Homo sapiens: one gene and its partner. The protein of the gene in region 1 purifies or fractionates together with the protein of each later gene. This does not show direct contact. Each region holds a gene or a part of one and is shown on either strand. Other genes may lie near its edges.

What was found.
Region 2: the proteins of WDR37 (region 1) and TAF5L purify together in Homo sapiens (affinity purification with mass spectrometry, with the first as the bait; one large-scale study listed by BioGRID). This does not show direct contact.

The regions. Positions count from the first base shown.
Region 1 is NC_000010.11:1,061,887-1,067,254, reverse strand, and holds part of WDR37 (WD repeat-containing protein 37), read right to left. Parts: intron 1-5,368. UniProt on the Homo sapiens protein: Required for normal ER Ca2+ handling in lymphocytes. Together with PACS1, it plays an essential role in stabilizing peripheral lymphocyte populations.
Region 2 is NC_000001.11:229,602,123-229,606,555, forward strand, and holds part of TAF5L (TAF5-like RNA polymerase II p300/CBP-associated factor-associated factor 65 kDa subunit 5L), read right to left. Parts: exon of another isoform or gene 4,296-4,433; intron 4,072-4,295; exon of another isoform or gene 3,997-4,071; intron 798-3,996; coding exon 73-797; coding exon of another isoform or gene 67-72; exon of another isoform or gene 1-66. UniProt on the Homo sapiens protein: Functions as a component of the PCAF complex. The PCAF complex is capable of efficiently acetylating histones in a nucleosomal context. The PCAF complex could be considered as the human version of the yeast SAGA complex.

The DNA.
Region 1 (5,368 bases):
TTTGTTGTTTGTTTTCACCTGTGTATCCAATTATCCCAGCCTCATTTGTTGAAGATGATCCATCCTAGATTGAACTGCTTTGGACTTTTGTCAAAAAATCAACTCACTGTACTTGTGTGGGGTTATTTCTTGGTTCTCTATTCTGTTCCACCGATCTACATATTTATCCTTCCACCAACGGCAGTGATATGGTTTGGCTATGTCCCCAGCTAAATCTCATCTTGAATTCCAATGTGTTGTGGGAGGGACCCAGTGGGAGGTAACTGAATCATGGAGGGGCAGGTCTTTCCCGTGCTGTTCTCGTGATAGTAAGTCTCACAAGATCTGATGGTTCTATAAGGGGGAGTTTTCCTGCACAAGCTCTCCCTCTCTGCCTGCCGCCATCCACGCAGAATGTGACTCGCTCCTCTTTGCCTTCTGCCATGATTGTGAGGCCTCCCCAGCCATGTGGAACTGTAAGTCCAATAAACCTCTTTCCTTTGTAAATTGCCCAATCTCAGGTATGTCTTTATCAGCAGCGTGAAAATGGACTAATACAAGCAGTTTCTATTATTGTTCTGTATGTCTTAAAATCAGTTACAGTGATTCCTATTAAATCTTTCTCCATTTTGTTTTATCTATTCTAGTCCTTTGTCCTTCCTTTTACATTTTTGAATAATCTTTTACATATCTACAAAAATCTTGCTGGGATCTTGATAGGAATTGTGTTAAATCTGTACATCAATCTGGGGAGAAATGGTATATTTATTATGCTGAGTCTTTTAATCTATGAATACAGTATTTATTTAGATCTTACTTTCCTCCATGTCAAGGTTTTTTCTGCATTAGTCCTAGTATCGGGCTGGGCGAGGTGGCTCACGCCTATAATCCCAGCACTTTGGGAGGTCAAGGTGGACGGATCACAAGGTCAGGACTTCGAGACCATCCTAGCTAACACGGTGAAACCCCGTCTCTACTAAAAAATACAAAAAATTAGCAGGGCGTGGTGGCAGGCACCTGTAGTCCCAGATACTCAGGAGGCTGAGGCAGGAGAATGGCATCAACCCGGGAGGCGGAGGTTGCAGTGAGCCAAGATCGCGCCACTGCACTCCAACCTGGGTGACAGAGCAAGACTCCGTTTCTAAAAAAAAAAAGTCCTACATATCTTTTCTCCATTTTAGACTAACATCTCTCTTTTTATTTTTTGTGTAAGTTTAAATGATACTGTACTTTTATTTTGGTTTCCACGTTAATTGCTAGTATAAATACAACTGGATTTTATGTATTAAACGTGTACATTCTTGCTGAACCTAAAGTTCAAGATTTTTTGTGGATTCCTTGGGATTTTCTATGTCAACTATTAAGTCATCTAAAAAAAAAAAGGACAGTTTTATTTCTTCCTTTGTGGTTTGTAAGCCTTCTATTTCCTTTTACTACCTTATTGATTTGGCTAGAAATTCCAGTACTATCTTAAATTACTATAGTGACAGCAAACACCCTTGCTTTGCCCTGAATATTCGGGTGAAAATATTGTGTTTCACCATTAACTTTGATGCCAGCTATAGATTTTTTTGTAGGTGCTGTTTATCAAGTTGAAAACGTTTCCCTCTATCATTCATTTTCTGAGTTTCTTTCACGAATGAGTGCTGAATTCTATCATGTTTTTTTCCTAGTAGCTTTTTTTTTTTACCTACTGACAGGACCAATTACACTCATGACTTTCAAACATTGATCCAACCTTGTAGCCACAAAATAAACTGCACTTGTTCATGGTGTATCATTCATTCTCTCTCCCTCTATTCTCTTTTTTGCCTTCTCGTGGGGTAAACATTTTTTATAATTTCATATTTATTTACCTACAGTATTTCTGAGTTTGCCTGTTTTGTATAACTTTTTAGTGGTAGCTCTAGGTTTTACATTATACATTTACAGCTTATTGTAGTCTACTGATTATCAACATTTTACCAGTTCACATAAAGTATACAAATCTTACTTTCCTCTATGCTTCTTTACCTTTCCCCATTTATAACGTAATCACAAATATTTCCTACACATACACTGAGAACCACACCACGGTTATGCTTCAAATTCCAAACACAATTTAGAAAATAAACGAATACTAAATTGACCGATATTTTTGCTGTCCATTCTTTGTTCTTCCCTCCTGATGTTCCCACATTTCTTTTGTCATTTCCTTTCTGTTTGGAGAATTTCCTTTATTTGTTATTTTCATAGAGTAGGTCAGCTGGAGATAAATCATGTGAAGGAAGTTTTCACTTGATATAAAATTCTGAGTTGATAGTCCTTTTCCTTCAGCACCTGAAAAAAATGTCCTGCCACTTCCTTATGCCCTCCACAATTTCTGATAAGATCCACTGTCAGGCCAGGCACAGTGGCTCATGACTGTAATTCCAGCAAGCGTGAGGGAGGCCGAGGCGGGCAGATCACCTGAGGTCAGGAGTTCAAGACCAGCCTGGCTAACATGGTGAAACCCCGTCTCTACTAAAAATACAAAACTAGCCAGGCGTGATGTGGCATGCCTGTAATCCCAGCTACTTGGGAGGCTAGGGCAGAACTGCTTGAACCTGGGAGGCAGAGGTTGTAGTGAGCTGAGATCACACCACTGCACTCCAGCCTGGGTGACAGAGCAAGATTCCATCTCAAAAAAAAAAAAAAAAAAAAAAAAAAAAAAGATCCATTGTCACTCAAATTGTTTCCCACTACAGGTCAAGTGGTATCTCTCTTACTATGCTTCTGTCTTCAGTTTTCAGAAGTTGGCCTGGATGTGTCTTAGCATCTTTGTGTTTATCTTCTCTGGGTTTATGCTGCTTCTTACGTCTGAAGGTGTATGGCTTGCCAAGTTTAGGAAACATACAGCAGTGATTTCTTCAGACACGTTTTCCCCCCACCCCGTCCTTCTCTCTTTCTAGACCTCTGATGACAGATGTTGCATCTTCTGTTAAAGTCCCACGGGCCCCTGAGGCTCTGCTCACTTTTTTCCAGTCTATTTTCTCTCTGCTGTTCAGATTGGGTAACTTCTATTGTTCTATCTTCAAATTGACAGCTTCTTTTGTCTGTCCTCTCCTTTCTGCTGCTAAGCCATCCACTGAATTTATTTCACATATTCTATTTTTCACTTTTGAAATTTTGTGTTTCTTTTTTACATCCTGTATTTTCTTCCTGAGGCTATTTGTCGTTTGTCTCGAATGTTAATTGGTTATTGAAGCATTTCTACAATCGCTGCTTTAAGGTCCTTGTCAAATAATTCTAAACTCTGTGTCATCTCTACGTTGGCATCAGTGGTCTTTTCTTACTGAGGTTGAGATTTTCCTATGAGTGATTTTCCATTGAAATCCTGACATCAGACTCAGGATCTGATGTAAGTCTTCTGTTAGAGCAGGCCTCTGCCAGGTGGATGTGGACGGTGAGGTGGAAGTTGAGATTCCCACTCAGCCTCCACGGACCCCTGCATGAGAAGGAAAGTTCAGCCTCCTGCCGAACTTCCACTCCCACCACCAAGGCTGAATCAGGGCTGCCTCCGTGCTGCTCCCTATACAGTCTCCCCCACACCACAGGGGGGTGGCCTCATGACCACAGGGCAGCAGTAAAGTTCCTGAGTTTTGCAAGGTCCCTCTTATGATACCCTAGCAGAAAGGAGGCTGTGCTCTGTCACCACCCAGCAGAAGTAAAACCCCAACTCCTCAGCCAGTCTTCTCTGACAGCAACCCTGCAGAGAGGAGCATCTCATCCCAGCTTGTCATGAGTGGGAATCTGAAGTACCTGCTCAGCCTCTGATTAGCAGGGTGAGGGTGGTGCTGCAGGGTTTCCTGTGATATTTAGCTGGAGGAAAGTACTTACCGCCGAAAAGTTCTCTGATTAGCAGGGTGAGGGTGGTGCTGCAGGGTTTCCTGTGATATTTAGCTGGAGGAAAGTACTTACCATCGAAAAGTTCTGTGATTTGTAGGCTGCCCCTTTCCTGGTCTTTCAGACACAGAGAGCAGGCTTTTCTTGGGCCTTGTTTTGTCTGAGTCCTTTTATACCTGCGCTGCTAGCTTATCCAGCACAACATATGAGATACATGAGGCAAAAAGAAAACTCACAGAACTAAGTTTGGTGTCATTTCTGTGGTCCCAATGTACGAAGGAAGTCTACCTTCTTTTCTCCATCTTTCAGTCTCTTTTTTTTTTTTTTTAACAGAGTGTCGCTCTGTTCCCCAGGCTGGAGTGCAATGGCACAATCTTGGCTCACTGCAACCTCCACCTCCTGGGTTCAAGCAATTCTCCTACCTCAGCCTCCCAAGTAGCTGGGACTACAGGTGCCCAACAGCACATCTGGCTAATTATTGTATTTTTAGCGGAGACAAGGTTTCACCATATTGACCAGAGTGGTCTCTAACTTGTGACCTTGTGATCTGCCCGCCTCAGCCTCCCAAAGTGCTTGGATTACAGGCGTGAGCCACTGCACCCGGCCCACTCTTACATTTGTTTTATATATGTCCAGTGTTTTTAGATGTACTTCATGGGAGGAATAAGGAAAAATAAGTCTCCATCTTTCCGCAAGCAGAAAGCCAAGAATCATCTTTTATTCTCAAATTGCATATGTGTAGGCCTATTTTTAAAGGAGAAGTAAGTCTTGCTTTACAACATAAAACAGTTACTTTGTAGTTTATGGAGTATGTTTTGTAAAGGAAAAAAAGAAACCACATCAAAAGCCTGTGAAAGCTGTCCTGATATGGCCTCAGAGAAAAAGGGAGACTCTATCTTCAGTTAAATGAAGCAAATAAAACCAGCAAAGGGTTTCCCTTCCCTCTCTTAAGAACTTCATCTGTAGAAACATTCTGATGCATTCCAGACATTCTACAAGTTCGTTACCAAAAATGCAGAGATTACAATATCACCTTTCCTTTCTCATCAAAATTATAAGTTTTGGATCACTGATTTTATCTCACTGGCTATTCCAGCCTCTCCGTAAGTTGCATGGTGTTCTCTTTGGTTTAGCTTGCTTTCTTCGCCACTTCACAAAATAGTCAATACCGCCGGCAATCTTTTTCTGCTGATCAACTACAACCAAATGTATGCATTTCCTACAATCACCTCCCTGGAACTTGGCACCAAATACAGATTTTTTCATACTGGAGTAATCTTATCATCTCTGTATTCACACCCTCCACATTTTTTCCCAGTGTCTGTATTGGTCCTATCACCACTTCCTTCCTTTCACACCACATCCTCCATGGAAACTCAGTCCTTGGCCCCCCCAAAAAAAAAAAAGCTCAAGACCAGAAGTGTTTCAGAATTCAGATGCTTTCAGATTTTGGAATATCCGCATATACATAGTAAGATATCCTAGGGATGGGACCCAAGGCTAAACTCAAAGTTCATTTATGTTT
Region 2 (4,433 bases), on another chromosome or scaffold:
GTCGTGTTTGGTAAGGACATTCTAAGGAAATTAGGAAGGCGGGTGCAGGGAAGAAAAAAATGGTATTCATACCTCCTCCTCCAGAATATCACAAGCCAAATGGATGCGGGACACGTCTACTTGGTGGGGCTCTGATTTTAACTTCTTGGATCGTAAACTCCAAAGTTTTATACAGGAGTTGTCAAACCCAGCAGCAAGCAGCTTGCTATCGGGGGAGATTTCTGCAGTGTTCAACAGCTGCTCTGTGTTATAGAAGGCATAGAAGCAGATGGTAGTGAGGGAGGGAGGCCCATCCTTGACTCGCTTAATGCTCTCCTGTAAGACCTCTAGGGCAGCCTCGTTCTGCAGAATAGGGCTGGGCATGTCGGGGGGCTCCAAACCGTTGTTCTCACTGCGGGAGGAGCTGCCACTGGCATACAGCTGATAGTCTGTTCTCTTGGCAGGCTGCACGTCAAGATGAATATGTAAGGTGAGGACTTTGCACAGGGCAGTATTGTTGTCACTTTGGAGGTAGCGGATAAGGTAGTTGTAGCTGTCTTCTTGGAGACGGACCACGTACTTGTTATCTAGGAATGCTCGAAGCTTGAAGTTAGATAGGATGTCCTGGATGGTTTGAGTGGTCTGTAGCTGCTCAATGACATCCTTCTGGCTAGCATTCTGCAGAAACATTCCATGGAAGCGGCTGTAAAAACTTTCCACTGTGCTCTTCGGACTGTTTTGGACCAGGTTGAGATGGAGGTAGACAAAGAGAGGATAGAGGAGAGGCATCACTTCGTGGCTATGCTGGGAATCAGAATCTATAATGAAAGAAAAAGAAGGCTTTATAATCAGCATAATCTTACAGAATAACGTGATCCCTCCTGGGGATCACCACCATCATATAATGCTTTCTTGCCAGGACCCCATTTTTTAAGAGTACTGATTGAACTATAAGCCCAACACAGGATTCTGGAATTTCAAAGGCCTTTTGATTGAAGAAAGAGCATGAACTCTGAAGTCCAGCAAATCAGGGCCTGAAGTTGGGCACAACGCAGGAACTTAATGCCCAGAGTGGTTAAGTGACTTGCCAGAGTTCACAACAATACAGTGGCTTGTACCCAGGTCTTCAAGATTTAGTATTTTTTCCCAATATGTTAGTGTTTCTTCAAATTGGGGACCTCAGATATCTGAGGGTACTTAGACATATTCTTGGAAGATTGAGTTCTTCACAATTTTTTAATGTGATGATAATATAAAAAATAATCAACACACAGTATATTCAGAATTATCTGGATGTCCGCTTAACAAGTAAGTACTGACAAGTGATTTTAGTGCTCTAGTTTGTGTTTTGTGATTACTTTTGGCATCCATTGTCTCAAGTAAAATCAAAGCACTTATTTTAGTGGGCTCATTAACATGTCTGGTTATACAGGCTGGCGTGTCCTGTGTTAACATGACAGCCTTCATTAACAATTGTCTCATCAGCATATTCATTCTGATTTTGTTGGTTAACAAGTTAAATTCTCTTTTGCAGTGATAATTTACAAATAAGACCATTTTACGTCATTAAGACTCAACTACTTACTAACTTGGGAGTTTAGCGCCATGAAACTGTAAGACAGAGAATGTTATTTAAAAGGTGTACAGCTTGAATTCATGGGTGAATGAGAAAAGAACAGAGGTATAATTGACACCTAAATAAGTGCTTAAGGCATGCTGTGAGGGAGCAAAGGTTTCGATGTGATTCATACACAGTGGGGAGACAGCAGGGCCACTGCAGGGCAGAAGCCCCCCAAGGAGCTGAGACCAGCCCGTGTCACAGTCACCAGTGCTGTCCAGATGCCTGCTTGCAGTAGCAAGGTAGTTCTGGCAAAATCCATCCGTTACATTCACTCAGTGTTATTTTCAACTTGACTGCCTTTGGGGTTTTGCTTGTCCCTTATCTGTAATGAGTCTGGGTTTCATAAAGAAATATAATAAGCATAAAGGTTTTAGATCTAGTGTAATGTTTGTACATATTTAAATAAATTAAAATAAAAATGTTTTAAGTCAGCACTTATGTTCTGGTAGCATTTTTTTTTTTTTTCATGAAAAGGCATCAATACAGGGTTTAAGACTGAGGAATACTGCATCAGAGAATCTTGCTCCCTAATTTGATGATAAAAGATATCTGCATGTTATTTCTGCTTAACACCCTATTTCACTTTATCACAAGGTGAATGAATCTGCTGCATAATATTCATAATATGCATTTTAGAATAAATGTATCCCTACTCATTATTTAGAGGATGAAAAATTACAATCATTCCACTGAACTGGAAGTTAAGACAGCCACCCAGCCACTTTGGGCTCCTCACACCTCTGAATCAATAGGCAAGGAAGGGAGTTACAGTGTTGGCTGGGGTAATTGATCCTGCCCAAGAGGAACTGGAACTGCTACACAATGGAGGTAAGGAGGAGTATGTCTGGCTTAAGGAGATCCCTTAGGACATCTCTGTACCCTGCCCTGTGATTACAGTCGATAAAAATGACAACAATCCATACAGGACTATGAATGGCCCACACCCCTGAAGAATGAAGGTTTGGGTCACCCCACCAGGTAAACCACGATCAGCTTGCGAGATGAGTGCAAAGGGAATACAGAATGGGTAGTGGAAAGAGGCAACCATGAATACCAGCAACCACCATGTGACCAGCTACAGAAACGAGGACTGTAATTGTTGTATTTCTTGTTTTGTTACGAATGTTTTGGTGTGAATATCTATATATAGATATATAAAAAGAAAATATCTTCGCATTCTTTCCTTTCTCGTTCCCTTATCATGGAACATCGGATTACTGACTTTATTTTTTTGAGATGGAGTCTCGCTCCGTCACCCAGGCTGGAGTACAGTGGCGCGATCTCGGCTCATTGCATCCTCTGCCTCCTGGGTTCAAGTGATTGTCCTGCCTCAGCCTATTGAGTAGCTACAGGCGTGTGACACCACGCTCAGCTAATTTTTGTATGTATATATATATATATATGTATTTTTTTTTTAGTAGAGATGAGGTTTCATCATGGTGGCCAGGTTGGTCTTGAGCTCCTGACTTTAAGTGATATACCCATCTCAGCCTTCTGAAGTGCTGGGATTAAGGGTGTGAGCCACTGTGCCTGGCCAGATTACTGACTCCATATCATAGTATTTAAGTATTGTTAACTTTACCTCACCGTATCAAAATTATGGAATATCACGGAGAGGAGTAAACATCATCCAAGGACTTTGCATTCTCCTCCGGGGAAAAGGTTAGTGTGTTTTTTGGTTGTACACAGGATAATTTTATTAGGTTAGGTGGAAGTATGAACTTGTTATTCTCTTTATTTGGAGATTAAGTATGGAATAAGGAGATGCATACAGGTGCCAAGTTAATAAGGAGTGGACTTGTGAGGTTACTTTTACATGTCAAACTGTGGGGGGGCCCACGGCACACAGATATTCAGTCAAACATTATTTTAAATGTTTCTGTGAAGGTATTTTTTTTTTTAGATGAGATTAACACATTTAAGTCAGTAGACTTTGAGTAAAGCAGATTACCTTCCATAAAGTGTGGGCCTCATCCAATCAATCAATCAATCAGTTTAGGCTTTAATAGAAAAAGACTTATCTTCCCCTAGTAGAAGGAATTCTGCCAGCAGAGAGCCTTTGGATTTGAACTGCAACACTAACTCTTTCCTGGGTCTCCAGCCTGCTGGCCCGCCCTGATTTTGAATGTGCCAAGCCTCCACAATTGCATGGAACAATTCCTTAAAGTAAACCTCTACATATCCATCCTGTTGGCTCTTGGCTGTTTCTTTCGAGAACTGTGACTAGATTTTGGTTTTTCTTTTCCCTTTGTTTTTTATTGGGATGAAGGATTGTTTTCAATTCCTTAGAAACAAAATTTCAGGCTCCTTTTCTAAAATGAGAGGCATTTCAATTGAGTAAGTTTAGAAAAAAACCTAGCTATCAAGAAATAGTGATGTACTACTTTAAAACTTACTGAAATTCACTGTTGCTTCAGCTCATAGGTTCAAAATTGCTTAATTGCTCTCTCTTGTCTGAAGAGAACAGTATGCTGGGTATAAAACAAAAAAACTGATCAATTTGGAAGAAGGTGAGATTCAGAATTCTAACTCCCATTTTAAATTATTCCCTTGCAATCTAACATACTCTGTATTTTACTGAAAGTGTACTCACTTAAAATATATTTTTTTCTAACTGCAAAAGTAACAAACATATCCTCTGAAAGTACACTTTTTCTTCCTTCTATCTACCCACTGAAATGTAATGAATGCCTACCTGGTGCCCAACTCTACTGGCGGTAAATGAGAGAACAATGGAGTTTTTCATGAGTTCATGGAAATTAGTAGTAAAAAGGATACTAAATTAAACAAAACTAATCCTGTCGGTCCTCATTCTCCTCTACCTTTCTTCAAG